Linked DNA regions of Homo sapiens: region 2 is linked to region 1. The links come from fine-mapping of genetic effects on gene expression. A gene starts in region 1. The other region holds a variant in brackets. All regions are shown on one strand. Distances are between the middles of the regions.

Region 1 (2,903 bases):
CTACTGCAAGGACTCGGGGATCGTGCAGAGGTGCAAAGGAGTCGTGCCCTCCTCAGTCAGCACATTAGCCTTGGCTCCGAAGGTCAGCAGCAGCCGCACACAGTCAAACTGGGCTCGGGCACAGGCCTCATGCAAGGCAGCGCGACCCCCGACACGGGCATCCAGCTCAGCTCCCTGCCGGATCAGGTGTCGAGCACAGTCTGTGTAGCCTCGGGCTGTAGCGATGGCGAGGGGTGCCGTCTGCTTGGTCTTGGGGGTCAGCACCCAGAACCCTAGGGAGAGCAAATAGTTTTGGGAGGTGGTGTATAAGACAGGGCAGGGCAGGGAGTGGGGATGCTGGTTCCAGCTGACAGCTGACACTGGCCTTCCCTCTGCATGGTTTGCTGAGCACAAACACTGCCAGGCTGTACCTGTGGAAGGGGGCTTATTCAAGTCCTGAAGTGGAAGAATAAATTGGAACAGCCTTTTAATACAGCTTATCAATCTGTAACAAAACATAGTATGTGTCATAAAAAAATTAATTGCTGTATAAAACCACAGGGGCCAACTAAGTAGAGTGACTCCCATTAAGGAAATCTCAGCGTCTTTGAATGGCTAATAGTGTCAAAGGCTTGTTCACCTTGGGGCCTGGGGTGGTGGCTCACACCTGTAATCCTAGCACTTTGGGAGGCCAAGGCGGGATGATCACTTGACCTCAGGAGTTCGAGATGAGCCTGGGCAACATAGTGAGACCTTGTCTCTTTTTTTTTTTTTTTTAGGCAGGGTCTCGCTCTGTCCCCCAGGCTGGAATGCAGTGGCGCTATCTTGGCTCACTGCAAGCTCCGCCTCCCGGGTTTAAGTGATTCTTCTGCCTCAGCTGCTGAGTAGCTGGGATTACAGGTGCGCACCACCATGCCCGGCTAATTTTTCTATTTTTAGTAGAGATGGGGTTTTACCATGTTGGTCAGGCTGGTCTCAAACTTCTGACTTCGTGATCCGCCTGCCTTGGCCTCCCAAAGTGCTGGGATTACAGGCGTGAGCCACTGTGCCCGGTCAACTTTTAATTCTTAAAAGACATACAGACTGCTAACCCTGCCTCATCTCTGTTTAGGAGGGAGCTAGGATAGGTGGTGGAAAGGGCTGCTATAGTCTGTGGTCTGCAGGGAAGGAGGGGCCTAGACTCTCCCCCTTCCCCACCCACTCCCCTTCTTTCTCCCTCCTCTTCTGCCCTCTTCTGGTGCCCCCTACCCTGTTCAGCCGACCAGGCCAGCTGGTTGCTCACAGTCTCCACAATCATGTTGGCGGCCTCTTCATCTTGGAACAGGGCTTGGACCTGCTGCAGGTTGCCGGAGAAGAGGGCTTGGTGGACAGCTGGGTCTCGGCAGGAACGGTGAGGCCTAGTGAGTCGGGCCCGGGGACTTGACGGGCACCTGCGGCTCCGGCACTGCTGGGCAGCCGCCCGCCGCCGGTCCTCCCATTCCAGCCACTCCTGCTGCAGGCGGAGAGAGCGCAGCATGGAGGAGGTGAAGGGGAAGGTCTCTCTTGCCATGGATGGGGCCCAGGGGTTTGGGCAGTGGCACCTGGGCAGAGCCAGGTTCCCTCGACCCGACTACCTCCCTTGCTCTGAGGAGCCACCCTGCCCCCGCCACCGTGAGCCAGAGAAAGCAGCAGCTGAGGCTATAAATAGGTCCTTTGCTGCTCTGGTAAACATGGTTTGCTCAGAGTCATGATCCTGGTGCTGAGAAGCTGCTGGCCCAACCCCCAGCCCAGGGTGAGGGCCAGCCCCTGCCCCTGCCGATACCCTTTGGTTGGTCAGCAGGCCCTCAGCTGAGGCCACCCCCGAACCCCAGCATCTGCATCCACCTTCATCTCTAGAGCGAGCATCTTGGGTTGGCAAGGTCCAGGGTGCGCAAAAAGGTCAGTCATGGAGATGGGCAGGGCTGGGAGGAAGACAAGGTGCCTCCAGCCTCTCTGATGTTGGCTGGAGGGCAGGAGCCACCATTGGCCCACGTGGAGGAGAGAGGGCTGACCTCAGCACAGGAGGTAAGGGGAGGTCAAGGCAGAGTTACTGAGAAGGTGAGCAGCTCTTCCCAGCATCTGCAGTAACAGCAATAACTCTGTACATATGCACAGAGTTTCACGGTGTTTAAATCACATTCATATCCACCTTCACCCAGGGGATCATACTTCCCAGCCCACCCAATAATTAGTAAACTTGGTTTGGACAATAAATGAAATTATCACAGTTGAATGCCCCTGAGATGGGTGGTCTTATCTCTGTTTTACAGATGAGGAATTTAAGGCTTAACAAAGTAATCTACTGGCTCAAGGTCACAGTTTGTGAGAGGCAGAGCCAGGACCCCACATAGATGGTGTGCTTTGGGCCAAGAATGGTGGCTCATGCCTGTAATCCTAGCACTTTGGGAGGCCAAGACAGGAGGATTGCTTGAGCCTAGGAGTTTGAGACAATCCTGGGCAACACAGTGAGACCTATATCTTTTTTTTTTTTTTTTTTTTTTTTGAGACAGAGTCTCACCCTGTCTCCCATGCTGGAGTGCAATGGCACGATCTTGGCTCACTGCAACCTCCGCCTCCCGGGCTCAAACGATTCTCTTGCCTCAGCCTCCTGAGTAGCTGGGATTATAGGCACCCGCCACCATGCCCAGCTAAATTTTGTATTTTTAGTAGAGATTTAATTTAGGGTTTCACCATGTTGGCCAGGCTGGTCTCGAACTCCTGACCTCGTGGTCTGCCCGCCTCGGCCTCCCAAAGTGCTAGGATTATAGGCGTGAGCCACCACCCCCTGCCTCTCCATCTCTTAAAAAAAGAAGAAAAAAAAAAAAAGATGGTACACTTTTTGCCTTCAGCTGCTGCAGCCACCTGGCAGCCTCCCCCATTCTCCAAGCAGGACAGACTAGTCTGTA
Region 2 (2,903 bases), 81 kb after region 1:
AGCATCAGTGATTTCTTCCACATTCTGGAAACATGGGATACCTACAGGATGCCAGGCACTGTTCTTGACAAAATCTGCTGCCATCTTGGCGTTCACATCCCAGAGCAGTGTTGTTCAGTAGAAACATAACACAATCTACATACGTAATTTCTAGCATCCACATTAAAAAATGTAAAAAGAAGGCCGGGCGCGGTGGATCACGCCTGAAATCCCAGCACTTTGGGAGGCTGAGGCGGGTGGATCACGAGGTCAGGAGATTGAGACCATTCTGGCTAACATGGTGAAACCCCGTCTCTACTAAAAATACAAAAAATTAGCCGGGCGTGGTGGTGGGCACCTGTAGTCCCAGCTACTCAGGAGGCTGAGGCAGGAGAACAGTGTGAACCTGGGAGGCGGAGCTTGCAGTGAGCCGAGATCGTGCCACTGCACTCCAGCCTGGGGCACAGAGCGTGAGACTCCGTCTCAAAAAAATAAAAAAATTAAAAGAAGCAAGTGGAGCCACACATGGTGGCTCAAGCCTGTGAGCCCGGCACTTTGGAGGCCAAGGCAGGTGGATCACTTGAGGTCAGGAGCTTGAGACCAGCCTGGCCAACATGGTGAAATCCCATCTCTACTAAAAATACAAAAATTAGCTGGGCGTGGTGGCGGGCACCTGTAATCCCAGCTACTCGGGAGGCTGAGGCAGGAAAATTGCTTGAACCCAGGAGGCGGAGGTTGCAGTGAGCCGAGATCGCTCCATTGCACCCAAGCCTGGGCAACAGAGCGACACTCTGTCTCAAAAAAAAGAGAAGCAAGTGGAATTAATTTCACCACATATATTTAACTCATTATATCCAGAATATTACAATTTCGGTAATACATATGCAGTTATTCTTTCTATTTTTTAATTTTTGTAGAGACAGGATCTTGCTATGTTACCCAGGCTGGTCTTTTTTTCGAGACTGAGTCTCGCTCTGTTGCCCAAGCTAGAGTGCAGTGGCGTGATCTTGGCTCACTGCAACCTCTGCCTCCCGGGTTCAAGCAATTCTCCTGCCTCAGCCTCCCAAGTAGTTGGGATTATAGGCGCCTGCCACCGCGCCTGGCTAATTTTTGTATTTTTAATAGAGCTGGGGTTTCACCATCTTGGCCAGGCTGGTCT[T/C]GAACTCCTGACCTCAGGTGATCCGTTCGCCTCGGCCTCCCAAAGTGCTGGGATTACAGGTGTGAGCCGCCATGCTCATCCTTTTTTTTTTTTTTTTTTTGAGACAGAATCTCACTTTGTTGCCCAGGCTGGAGTGCAGTAAGCAGGATCTCTGCTCACTGCACCCTCCACCTCCTGGGTTCAAGCTTCAAGCGGTTCTTTTGCTTCAGCCTCCTGAGTAGTTAAGACTACAGGCGTGTGCCACCACACCCAGCTAATTTTTTTTTTTTTTTTTTTTTTTTTTTGAGACGAAGTTTCACTCTTGTTGCCCAGGCTGGAGTGCAGTGGCAAGATCTCGGCTCACTGCAACCTCTGCCTCTCGAGTTCAAGTGATTCTCCTGCCTAAGCCTCCCAAGTAGCTGGGATTACAGGCATGTGCCACCATGCCTGGCTTAATTTTTTGTATTTTTATTAGAGAAGAAGTTTCACCACGTTGGCCAGGCTGGTCTTGAACTCCTGACCTCAGATGGTCCACCCGCCTTGGCCTCCCAAAGTGTTGGAATTACAGGCGTGAGCCACTGCGCCTGGCCTAATTTTTGTATTTTTAGTAGAGACGGGGTTTCACCATGTTGGCCAAGTTGGTCTTGAACTCCTGACCTCAAGTGATCCACCTGCCTTGGCCTCCCAAAGCGCTGGGATTACGGGTGTGAGCCACCGCACCCAGCTGCCCAGGTTGGTCTTGAACTCCTGGGCTCAAGCCATCCCCCTGCCTTGGACTCCCAAAGTGCTGGGATTACAGGTGTGAGCCACTGTGCCTGGCCAATATGCAGTTACCAATGAGATATTTTGGTTTTTGTTTCATACTCTTTGAAATCTAGTGTATACTTCACACTTATATCACATTTCAGTTTAGACAGGTTGTGTGCAAGGGCTCAGCAGTCACATGTAACTAGTAGCTATGGGACTAGACAGCACAACTTTAGACAGCCCTTAAGTACCAGGGCTGTCTAAAGAGCCCTGGCACCAGAAGAGGTTCTGCTTGAAAGATACATGATCCTGGCCCTAGGGCTTCCTAGCCTGGCGGGATCCACGGGGAGGATCCATGATCAGGGAGGCCTTGTTGCACTTAGGGAGAAAAGTCATTGTTCGTTCAGAGGGCTCAAGACTAAATGTATACTCAGTTTATTCAGTTAAGGAAATCGAAGGGAAAAGATGGTGAATCCAGGAAGGCTTGCTGGAGGTGGTACCTTAGAGCTGTGAAACTCTTCATTCATGGGGAAGAGGAAGAATGGAGCTCAGGTTTGGGTGGGGGGTGCTTCAGGTCCCCCAGGGTTTTTCCTGAGTATATAGGTGGTGATATGCCAGAGGGGGTTGTGGGGGCAAGATGCAGGGTCGGTGGGAGGGCAGTCAGGTGCCCTGACAATGGTGCTTAGTCATCACCCCCAACTCCGTAGTGCCACTCCACGGGCAGTCCCCACTAGTGACGGGTGAACGTGTGGCCACCAGCATGCGGACGGTAGGCAAGCTCCCGCGGCATCGGCCCCTGAGCCGCACTCAGTCCTCACCGCTGCCGCAGAGTCCCCAGGCCCTGCAGCAGCTGGTCATGCAACAACAGCACCAGCAGTTCCTGGAGAAGCAGAAGCAGCAGCAGCTACAGCTGGGCAAGGTGAGCCTGGAAAGGTGAATGGCCTGGGGCTGTGGTGGGGGCAGGACACAGGAGAGTACCAGGCTGGCAGAAAAGTCCTCCTTTCAGGCCAGACACGGTGGCTCGCGCCTGATTGGGAGG

Direction of the effects. Positions count from the first base shown, and alleles are read on the strand shown. Sizes are in standard deviations (SD) of each study's normalised expression.
For the expression in cerebellum of the gene that starts at base 1,614 in region 1, C is the low allele of the variant in region 2 and T is the other (small effect, 0.30 SD a copy in GTEx).

Evidence for each region. PIP is the estimated chance that this variant, and not a neighbour inherited with it, causes the effect. A credible set is the group of variants that fine-mapping cannot tell apart.
Region 2: its variant is the best candidate, but not a certain one, in a credible set for the expression of ASB16 in cerebellum (GTEx, PIP 0.52).

The regions. Positions count from the first base shown.
Region 1 is chr17:44,169,415-44,172,317 of GRCh38, reverse strand. It overlaps ASB16 (ankyrin repeat and SOCS box containing 16), which reads right to left and starts at 1,614. Exons shown (of 5, transcript NM_080863.5): 1 at 1,228-1,614; 2 at 5-272. The coding sequence starts at 1,528.
Region 2 is chr17:44,088,267-44,091,169 of GRCh38, reverse strand. It overlaps HDAC5 (histone deacetylase 5), which reads left to right. Exons shown (of 27, transcript NM_005474.5): 12 at 2,572-2,783. Among named protein-coding and RNA genes, the nearest start is that of G6PC3, 19 kb to the right of the region's middle. The variant T/C (reference allele first, on the strand shown) is at 1,139.